Regions from separate parts of the Homo sapiens genome. Here region 1 is linked to region 2. The links come from fine-mapping of genetic effects on gene expression. A gene starts in region 2. The other region holds a variant in brackets. All regions are shown on one strand. Distances are from middle to middle.

Evidence for each region. PIP is the estimated chance that this variant, and not a neighbour inherited with it, causes the effect. A credible set is the group of variants that fine-mapping cannot tell apart.
Region 1: its variant is the best candidate, but not a certain one, in a credible set for the expression of WFDC6 in lung (GTEx, PIP 0.70).

The regions. Positions count from the first base shown.
Region 1 is chr20:45,559,262-45,564,640 of GRCh38, reverse strand. WFDC8 (WAP four-disulfide core domain 8) reads left to right here. Exons shown (of 6, transcript NM_130896.3): 2 at 2,422-2,531. It also overlaps the pseudogene RNA5SP485. Among named protein-coding and RNA genes, the nearest start is that of EPPIN-WFDC6, 15 kb to the right of the region's middle. The variant T/C (reference allele first, on the strand shown) is at 2,848.
Region 2 is chr20:45,536,729-45,542,107 of GRCh38, reverse strand. It overlaps WFDC6 (WAP four-disulfide core domain 6), which reads left to right and starts at 2,626. Exons shown (of 3, transcript NM_080827.2): 1 at 2,626-2,791; 2 at 4,014-4,144. The coding sequence starts at 2,701. It overlaps EPPIN-WFDC6 (EPPIN-WFDC6 readthrough), which reads left to right. Exons shown (of 5, transcript NM_001198986.2): 4 at 4,014-4,144; 5 at 4,558-5,379. The coding sequence ends at 4,575. It overlaps EPPIN (epididymal peptidase inhibitor), which reads left to right. Exons shown (of 4, transcript NM_020398.4): 4 at 1-1,482. It overlaps LOC107987282 (a long non-coding RNA gene), which reads right to left. Exons shown (of 4, transcript XR_001754641.3): 3 at 3,429-3,572; 4 at 1,721-2,033. It also overlaps the pseudogene HSPD1P21.

The DNA of each region.
Region 1 (5,379 bases), 23 kb before region 2:
TGCAGTGGCGGCGATCTCGGCTCACTGAAAGCTCTGCCTCCCGGGTTCACGCCATTGTCCTGCCTCAGCCTCCCGAATAGCTGGGACTACAGGCACCCGCCACCACGCCCGGTTAATTTTTTGTATTTTGTTTAGTATAGACGGGATTTCACCGTGTTAGCCAGGATGGTCTCAATCTCCTGACCTCATAATCCGCCCACCTGGGCCTCCCAAAGTGCTGGGATTACAGGCGTGAGCCACCGCACCCAGCCCATGCCCAGGTGGGTCTTGAACTCCTGGGCTCAAGTGATCCTCCTGTCTTGGCCTCTCAAAGTGCTGAGATTACAAACATGAGCCACCGTGCCCAGAACCTAGTGTGTTATTTATATAGCACATTTGTGTCCGTGTATTCCAGGTCTGTCCTAGTATTCCAGGTCTGTCCTAGTATTCCAGGTCTGTCCTAGTTCTTCAGAGCCCCCACTGAGCAACTCTTGCAATTATGCTCATTTGTTACCTATAAGACCTGTGTTTTGTAGTCTCTTGCCCAAACAAACCCCAGTCCAACCAAAATGGATTCATTCTGTGTCAAAGTTGCCAGATTTAGAAAATAAAAATAGAGGATGACCAATTAAATTTGAATGTCAGATAAACATCAAATACTTTTTTAGTAGAACTATGTTCCTTATATTGCATGGGATATACTTATGCTAAAATTATAAATGGACATCCTCTATTATGTTTGGCAATTCTATTAATCTGTGTTTCTCCCCTGCCTCCATCCCACGAGATCTGCTTTCTTCTAACTGACTGCAGGCTAATCTGATTAACTGATTCTCAAGACTGGGTTAATAGATGTTTTCAGGTTAGAGGGTAAAATTTCAAACCCATAGAGTGACTTGATAATAAAAATTTAAAGCACCAGAGGGCCTTTTGGCTAATCTTTTAGGGGAACTAAAGGAATGATTTACACAGTCTCTAACTAGGGAACTCAAAAGCTAAAATGGTAATAGGAACATTTGTTGGCATTCACTATTGCCATTCATTATTTGTTAACTGGCTAAAATACAATAAACACTGATTTACAAGCCACTTGTCATGCTTTACAAAAATAGTTCAAGTAATTCTCATGTCTGTGAGGTAGGTGTTATTATTGTTTCCTTTATGACAAATTGAGGCTCAGTGAAGTGAAGTGACTGAACCCAGGCCACACAGCCGATAAGTGGTGGATTCAGGATGTGAACTCAGGTCTAACTCTGAATGCTACGTTTCCTACCACTCCGTACCACTTCATTAAATCTTCATGCTATCTCATCTTAATCCTCACAATGACAACAAAGCTTCCAGGTTAATTGTATTATTCCCATTTTCCAGATGAGGAAATTGAGGATCCAAGATATGCTGTTATAAGGGATTGAGCGAGGCCCAAAATCAAGATCACTATGTTTGGGGTCATAATTTCCATGACCAGAGAGTATAGGCACTATTGTAAAATTTGAAGAGGATACATGATTAGAACTCCCCCAACAAAAAAGGTTGGGGAGATAAATTGTCACAAGTCTTTACTTTTAGGCAGCCACATGGTATGGCTTCAGGAACTCTGGAAGATACTCTATTCCAAGATACCTTCATAGCTTTCTCAGTATCGGAAGTTCCACCAATACAGATGTATATTTTGGCATAAAGATGTTTTCTCTGTCTCTTGCTTCCTCTTTCTCCCTCTACCCACCTCTTGCATTTTTGAAATGCATGCACTCTAAGAGTTAATACAGTAAAGGATTATTAGTTTTTCACACCTTAAAATAAAAAATACATAAGGATCATGAAGACACATATGGGAAATGGGGGCTTGAGTAGGCGGGGGAAGCTCATCTGTTCATCTGGTTGTCTGGGAGTATCATAAGATCCTAGGCTTGGATAGTCACAGAAGGAATAAAAGGAATTTCTCTGTTAACCCAAGGTCATCTGAGATTGTTCTTGCTTCTGGTGCACCAAGATCCAGTAGAGTGTGCCCAGGCCCTCTGGGAAATCTCATACCATCCATTTCTGTCATCAGTGGAGCAAAGAAAAGATGCTCACTAGTGTCTGGGGTTGCCCCTGGAGTGACTGTGGGCAAACCAGCTCTGCAACTGTTCCAAATAAATCCTTGTGATCATTCAAGTGTGGCCTTTTACCCAGGAACAAGACAATAGGCAAGTGTCTGTGTGGCACAAGGTACAGCACCATGGCAGGGTATGGGGATTGGTCAGGGTCCTGAAACGGAATGTCTTAGACACACCTTAACTCACCATCTGACCTCAGACAGACTCCTTCCCCATGCTGGTGTCAGTCTTCTTACCTGTGAACTAAAGGGACCTGGTGGATCATCTCTAAGGTTCCCCTGCACACACTTTGTGTCTCTCTCTGGATTGTGCTTAACTCCCACCTCTCTTCTCATCCATACAGGCACTTTCCTCTCCATAGCCCCACCTTCTCCTGGAGGAATGTAGCTTTCCTGCTGCTTCTCTCCCTTGCTTTGGAGTGGACTTCTGCAATGCTGACCAAGAAGATCAAACGTGAGTTCAAAAAAGCTGCAGCCATTCTTCCTTAGAAAGCATTATTGGGGATGAGGGTTAGACATGAGGCCAGTGCCAGTGTCAGATGAGGCCCCCTCTACTGTGGATTTGGGGCCACAGAAAGCTACCCCTGCTCACGACCCTGGCCCTCCACATACTTTCCTTACTTGCTCCCCCCAAATTATTTCCCTAACTTTTCCATATTTTTATATATGTAAGGAGACTATATATATAGTTTGCATCTACTAGGGATGATCCCCAGAGATCTGGTCTCATCTGTCTTATGATATCACTCAACACATAATTCTTGGGTGAT[T/C]ACATTCATTCCCACTGTACACACACACACACACACACACACACACACACACACGCAAGTTTAATTGTTTTTTAATTAATAAGTCACTAGGCATGAGCCTGAGGGGAGAGGACCAGTGAGGAGGCTGCTGCAGTAGTTGAGAAGAGACAAGGGGTGAGATCAGGTGCTGATCTGAGGGAGTGGTAGTAAAGAGAGGCAGGAGACAGGGTTTGGAGAGAGGTTTAGGAGACAGAATTGACCCAAGTCCATGAGTGATGGGATACTGGGGTGGCGGAGAGGAAGGAGTGAATCTCTGGATTCTAATAACAAACTGGACCTGTTGATGCCAAATGTCAAGATGCGGAATAGAAAGTAAGGTAGTGCTTGGGCATAAGAAGATAATAGTTCTGTTTTAAATATGTTGGAACAGAGGTGCTTCTGAGATGCCCAGATGGTGTTTTTCCCAGGCAGGTCGAAATAAAAGTCTTTAGTTTGGAATAGAGGATGAGTCTGGAGGAAGAGATGGGAATCATAGTTGGGATCGTGGGAACGAGTGGGATTACCCAGGAAGTATGTGTCAAGTAATGTCAGAAGACAGCTGAGACCAGATCTCTGAGAAGCATCCCCAGTAGATGCAGAGAAACCCATGAGGTATGCTTATACACACAAGTAAGTGGTTAAGAAGAGCCAACAAGAAACGGAGGAGGGTTTTTATTAATAAGTGAGAGTTCAAGCTGACAATGGGGAAAGGAGCTACAACAACTCAAACCCAGTTTGATTTGCCGAACTCTGTCTCTGCCTAAACCTAGAACAATGGTTCCCAAGTAACAGCCTATCTCCTGGAGCCCACTGCCTGCTTTAGGACCACCTGGGGTTCTTTTTAAAAAGTGGAGTCCCAAGGATGCACTTTCTAGAGATTCTGATTCAGCCTAGAGTCTATATTTTCTGAAAGATGCATAGATGATTTTGATGTACACTCCAAATTAGGAACCACATACTCTTCTTAGCTTCAGTCCATTCCTGGAGGGGGTCATTAATGACAAGAAGTATTGTTGGAAAGTACTCAAAGTCTCAGTGGCCAGTCCTCAGGGAAGACGTGGGGCTCCTGAAGTGAGTCCTGGATTGTAAGTCCCAGACTTGCCCCTAATGCATTGTATTATCCTATCTGACCTCATTACTTTTGATCTATGAAATCAGAAGTTTGGTACCAATGATAAATAGAGTTCTTTCCATTCCAAAGTTCTACAGTTCCAAGACTCAGTAGTATCTGAAAGGATCATGCCTCTCTGGCCAGATTCCACTGGAGGGATGCTCAGTTTAGAATCATGGAGACACATTAAGCGCTGTATGAGCTATCCTTTGCTACGTAACAAATTATCTGTGGGTCAGAAGTCTGGCATTGTGCATCTGGGTTCTTTGCTCCGGGTCTTACCAGGCCAAGATTGAAATGTCAGCCAGGGCTGTAGTTCTCATTTGGGATGCACTGTCCTCTCCCAAGCTCCCTGGTTGTAGTAGAGTCATTTCCTTGGAGTTGTAGGACTGAGGCTCCTTTACTGGCTGTCACTTCTAGATGCCACCCTTATTCCTTGGCACTTGGCCTCAACCATCTTCAAAGCTACGAATAGCAAGTTGGATCCTTCTCATCATTTGAATCTCTCTAATCAATTCTTCTCTACCAACCAGAAGAAAACTCTGCTTTTCAAGGACCTAATTGACTAGGTCTGGGCCAGAGATTAGACCTTAAAATTAGAGATAATCTCTAATCTTAAAGTCAACTAACTTGGGTCTTTAATTTTTCTGCAAAATCCCTTCACAGCATTGCCTAGCTTAGTGTTTGATTCAATAATCAGAAGATGGGAATCTTGAGGGTGCAACTTTAGATTCTACCTACCACAAGCACTGAAATCAGGAAGCCATGTCTAGCCTTAAAAAGGAAGGAAGCATGGCCATACCACCCTGAAAATTCCTGATCTTGTCTGATCTCAAAAGGTAAGCAGGATCAGACCTGGTTAGTACTTGGATGGGAGACTGACTGGAAACACTGGGTGCTGTAGTTTTTTTCCCCTTGCCTCTTCTAGTTTTTAGTAAAAAAATAAAAATAAAAATAAAAGGTAGAAAGCAACGCCACATCTGCCAAGGTCTTACCCCAGGCATTATAGACATCACCCCATTTAACTCTTATAATCAGCCTGTAAGGCAGGAATTGTCATTCTCATTTTAAAGATGGAAAATATAACTCAGATGAAGGGAAATACTTTCCCAAGATTATTTAGTTGGTTAGTGTTGGAGCCAGGCTCCCGAGCCAGGTCTGCCTGACTACAATGCTTCTTCCACTCCACTGTTTCTTACTCCTTAGAGGTAAATTAAAAATCATACAATGAGTTCAGATTGGTCTTGAGTTTACCAGGAGTCAAGGGTCAAATCAGCCCTCCTGACCTCTACTTCCATGATGTTCCCACCAGTCTTTACTAATTTCTTTTATCAACTGGAGACAAAGGAATTAAGCATTAAAATATTAGGTTTCAAGAAGAGAGAAAATCTTTTGAATTTAGG
Region 2 (5,379 bases):
GGCTCATGCTCTGAGTACTGTTCCTGTACCTGACGGATGCTCCAGACTGGCTTCCAGTTTCACTCTCAGCATTCCAAGATCTTAGCCCTTCCCAGAACAGAACGCTTGCATCTACCTCCTCTTCCTCCATCTTTGGCTCTTTTGATGCACAATATCCATCCGTTTTGATTTCATCTTTATGTCCCCTTTATCTCCAACTTCTAGAACTCCCAGTTTATACCTGTGTCACTCTCAATTTTTTCCAGTAAAGTACTTGATGTAGTCCTGTGCCTTGAGGCTGAGTGATTGACATCTTTTTGGCACATTACACTTTGCAGAGTAAGGGATCATTGAGGCTTCTGGTGACATCATTCAAGGGAGTGAAGACAATCAGAACTTTGAGAGTTCAGAGTTCCAGGAATATTGTTATTGTTATCTTCCTCTGTTTCTACAAAAGATTGTAAAACCCTTTTTAGGCAAGGGCCCAAGGACAGTGCCTTAGTTTGGATCCTCTAGAAACTAACCCTGGGAAAAGGGCATGGGTGCAGGTAGTTTGTTTGAGAGATTTCCCAGGACATACAAGATGGGGAGTGAGATGAGTAATTCAGGGAAGAGAAGGGAAGAGAGAAGAGTCTATTATGAGCTGGTTACTACTGTGGCTCAATCCTATTGGGGACCTTTTAAAGAATCATGTAAAACAGGCTTACAAATTTTCTTTTTAAAAATATTTTATTTTATTTTACGTTCCGGGATACATGTGCAGGACCTGCAGGTTTGTTACATAGGTAAGCCTGTGCCATGGTGGTTTGCTGCACCTATCAACCCATTACCTGGGTATTAAGCCCCGCATGCATTAGCTATTTATCCTGATGCTTTCCCTCCCCCTGCCCCCTCAACAGTCCACGTGTTCTCATTGTTCATCTCCCACTTGCAAGTGAGAACATGTGGTATTTACTTTTGTTCCTGCGTTACTTTGCTGAGGATAACGGCTTCCAGCTTCATCCATGTCCCTGCAAAGGACGTGATCTCATTTCTTTTTATGGCTGCATAGTATTCCATGGCATATATGTACCACATTTTCTTTATCCAGCCTATCGTTGATGGATATTTGGTTTGATTCCATGTTTTTGCTATTGTAAATAGTGCTGCAGTGAACATACACATGCATGTATCTTTATAAAAGAATGATTTATATTCCTTTGAGTGTATACCCAGTAATGGGATTGCTGGGTCAAATGGTATTTCTGGTTCTAGATCTTTCAGGAATTGGCACACTCTCTTCCACAATGGTTGAACCAATTTACATTCCCAACAGTGTAAAAGCATTCATGTTTCTCCACAGCTTTACCAGCATCTGTTGTTTCTGGACTTTTTAATAATCACCATTCTGACTGGCATGAGATGGTATCTCATTGTGGTTTTGATTTGCATTTCTCTGATGATCACTGGTGTTGAGCTTTTTTTCATATGTTTGTTGGCCGCATAAATGTCTTCTTTTGAGAAGTGTCTGTTCATGTCCTTTGCCCACTTTTCAATGGGGTTGTTTGTTTTTTTTCTTGTAAATTTGTTTAAGTTCCTTGTAGATTCTGGATATCAGACCACAAATTTTCTTAATCTGTCTCCAGTGATGGGAAAGCTAAGCTATTTGTCCACTGATTCCCAACGCCCACTGGATGCCAGGGATACTAAATCCCTCGCTCTTTCAAACTGTTATACTTGCAAGCTATACAAGCTCCCTGGGGGCCAGAGAAAACCCACAGCAGAAAATTAGGGACTGATGCTAGAGGTAGGAGGCTGTCAATGTGCATTGGCTATTATTCGGCCATAAAAAGGAATGAACTTCTCACTCACCACTGATGACATGCCTTGCTGCACACACACCCTGCTGCCACCCTGCAGAAATGCTTCCATTACCCACAGTCCTTTGCCAGATGGAACTGATGCCCAGGTAACTGGCTCCTCACCTCCTTCGGGCTTATACCAAGGATATAAAACTTGGTACAGATGCTCAAGCGTTAATGCTTCAGGGTGTGACTTTTAATCCAATGCTGTAGCTGTGACAACAGGGAAAAACGGAGAACAGAGTTGGAGAAGTCCCAAAGTAATGAAAGAAGTTATTTACTGTTGCAAAATCAAACGACTTAAAGGATAAATGTAACTGATCTTTACATACGAAAGAAGAGAGAGGGAAGTGAAGGGCGGGGAGAAAGAGACTCAGACAGACAGAGACTCCCTGAGAAAAAGACAGGCACAGAGTAAAAGACATACAGATGCACAGAAAAGAGAAGAAACAGAGTGAGAAAAATAAAACATAAGAATAGACATGTCAGGAGAAGAGTGAAATTAGAAAGAAGGAAGAGAGCTAGCATACTGTTAACCTGCAAACTCCCCCTGGGAAATGGAAGACTCTGGAGTTAAACCTCCCCTTCTGCTAAGGGAGCCTGGAAAGCCCAAGACAACATGTGCCCTCTTTCCCTGGTAGACCAGAAAGCCTCAGATTGCTGAGGATTAGGAGCCACCTATCCCCCAGTGTAGGTACCAGGTAGTCCCACTGATGGCCTCAGGGATCTGGTGTTCCTGATCGGGGAGTCTGGCTGGCTTGTCTCCAGGGCTGTCTCTTAAGGTGCTGGGCCACACCGGGGCAGGCAAAGTGCAGATGTAGGAGCTGCTGAGGAGCAGTTCTTAGTTTTGGTGCCATCAACCAGGCCAGTACTTCCTAAAATGGGACTCTCAGGACTTCTGCCAATCCTGGTACCATTCATCCTTTTGGGGGACATCCAGGAACCTGGGCACGCTGAAGGCATCCTTGGCAGTAAGTATTGGGAACTCCGTCCTTGCAATGGGGAAAGGAAACTCAGTGGGGAGGAAGGAACAAAGAATAATTTTGCAGCTGAGAAATTATTTTCTCCACCTCTGCCTGGAATTCCAGGTGGGAAAGAGGGGAGCTATTTGAAGTCTCTTGGTAAGAGACTCCCTTGGTGAATACAGGCATCCAAATCTGTGGCAAGTGACTCCTTGCTGCCATTCCAAAGAGTTCTTCCTGGAGGTGCCTGGACCTAGAGCTCATGAAATGAACTAAGAAGGAGTAGTAAGCCCAAGGAAGTCTCCCACAAGAAAAACAGGCTGCTCCCCACAACACCACCTGTGTCAACTTCCAAATGTTCTCATTGCAGCCCCCACACCCATACCCACAGAGGACCCTGGTCTTTGGGTTAAAGAATGGTCTCCAGAAGTCCCTTGGAATGCTGAAATGTGAAGACTCACAATTAGCAGCTAACTGTACTGGGCACTGAAAATTAGTGGTTGAAAGTGAGCACTCAGGAGCCACACATTGTAGGTTCAAACCTGGCTCCACCCCTGAGTAGCTGTGTGATCTTGGGCAAATTCACATAATCTCCTTATGCTTCCAATTCTTCTGTTTACAAAATGTGAATATTAAGAGTACTTACCCATAGATTTGTAATGAGGATTAAGGAGAAAAGGCAGCTCACAGTAAGTGCTTCATCCATATTACTCATTGTTACGTTACATTGCCCCAGGCAGTTTGACGATGGCTTGTCAAACTGTGTTGCTGGTTAGTCTTCAAAGCAACCCTATGGGCAAATGAGGAAATCAAGGCTCAGAGAGAGTGCCTGGCACACCAAGCGTCTCACAGAATTCAAAAGCCCAGCTATCTGATGCCAGAAATGTTAATCTCAATCATCGAGAGCCACAGCACCTCCTGGGGGAGCAACCAAGCACAGCAAGGCTGAGTGACCAGAACAGTCTTAGAGGAATGCGTCTTTCTCTCAGGAATCTCATAGATGGTGCGGGTAGGGGGTAGGGGTTGGTTTAGGCATCCGATGGTGAGTTGTTATGGGGTTGGGGATGTGAGCAGTGTTGTGAAATTCCTGAGCCCCCTGAGGGCCACTACCTTCTGGGGATAGGTGAAGTGGAAACAAAGTTCTCTAACTCTGGAGGGGTGCCCTGGTCTCGGGGAGGGGGAGCACTGGCTCCTTTAAGGCCTTGAGGGAATATATCTTCCCCTCCCTTAGAGCCGTGTCCCAAAATCAAAGTGGAATGCGAAGTGGAAGAAATAGACCAGTGTACCAAACCCAGAGATTGCCCAGAAAACATGAAGTGTTGCCCGTTCAGCCGTGGAAAGAAATGTTTAGACTTCAGAAAGGTAACTCAGATGCTTCCTAAATTACCCAGTGCCCTCACCTCCTATCTCCACCTGCACTGCACTACCTCTGTCTCCTAGTTCACTGATGGCTGGTCTCTGACCAAGAGTTTAGGTACATCTTCTACTTGACACAAATCTGCCAGTCCTGGACTTGGGAGACATGGATTTTATTTCATTTCTTCCTCTATTTTGGTAAGTGATGTGAACAATGTAGTTTTCCTTTCTGGGCCTCAGTTTCCCTTTCCATAAGACAGGTGTGGATAATGGACCACATGGTCTCTTGGCTACTCTTCAGTGATTCTCGAGATGCCAAGTAGTCACCAAAGTCTCATCAAATGCCAACATTGTGTCAGGTTATATGATAGCTATAAGAGACAGGTATATAATCTGTATTTCCTGGCTTTTTTCTCTAGGCCTCTCTGTCTACATAAATCCAGGATGCCTTCCCTGACCACCTTAGACCGCCTACACTCTTTCTTCTCTGCCCATATTATTGAGCTCTAAAGAAGATCATCAAGGACCATTCGTTCATTCTATTCATTCAACAAATATTGATTGGTGCCCCTGACACCCATGATGGGTTCCACTTGCTCATTGTGGCCAGGAAGGTCAGAAAAGTTTTTCTGGGAAAGAGATCCATGATTTAAGATCTGAAAGATGAGTACTTAGACCAAAAATGGGAAGAAATAGCCTTTCAGGCCAGATAATAGGATGTGCAAAGGCTCTGTGGCAGGAGGCAGGATGTTCAGGTCTAGAAAGGCTAGAAAGCAGAGAGTGAGCAAGAGACAAGAAACAGGAAACTGGTAGTGTATATTCAGGGCAACTTGAATCTGTATTCCCAAGTGGCCATCCTCAAGTTTTGGGGTCAAATAAATGCCCTACTTAATGATATTTTCTGAATCTTGTTACTTTAGGTTGACATACCTTTCAAGACAATAACTAGGTTTTCAGTGCTTTGATAAAACCTCAAATGTGTGGCCTTCCAGCCAGGCATCTGTGGTTTCATATTGTTTAAGCATTTGTTGCATCCCTATGGATTGCAGCTCTCTATAGGTTCGCTGTTGCTGAACCAAGAAATAAGGCATACACAGATTTCTAGAGAAATTGTAATTCTATAACAGATTTTCAGGAGATGAGGAAGGCTGGTATCTTTCAGAGTACAAAGTGATTTTGGAATTGAAAGAATTTCTTTGGGTTAAAGTTTGTCACTGACTTGTGTTCCTGAACCATGAAGC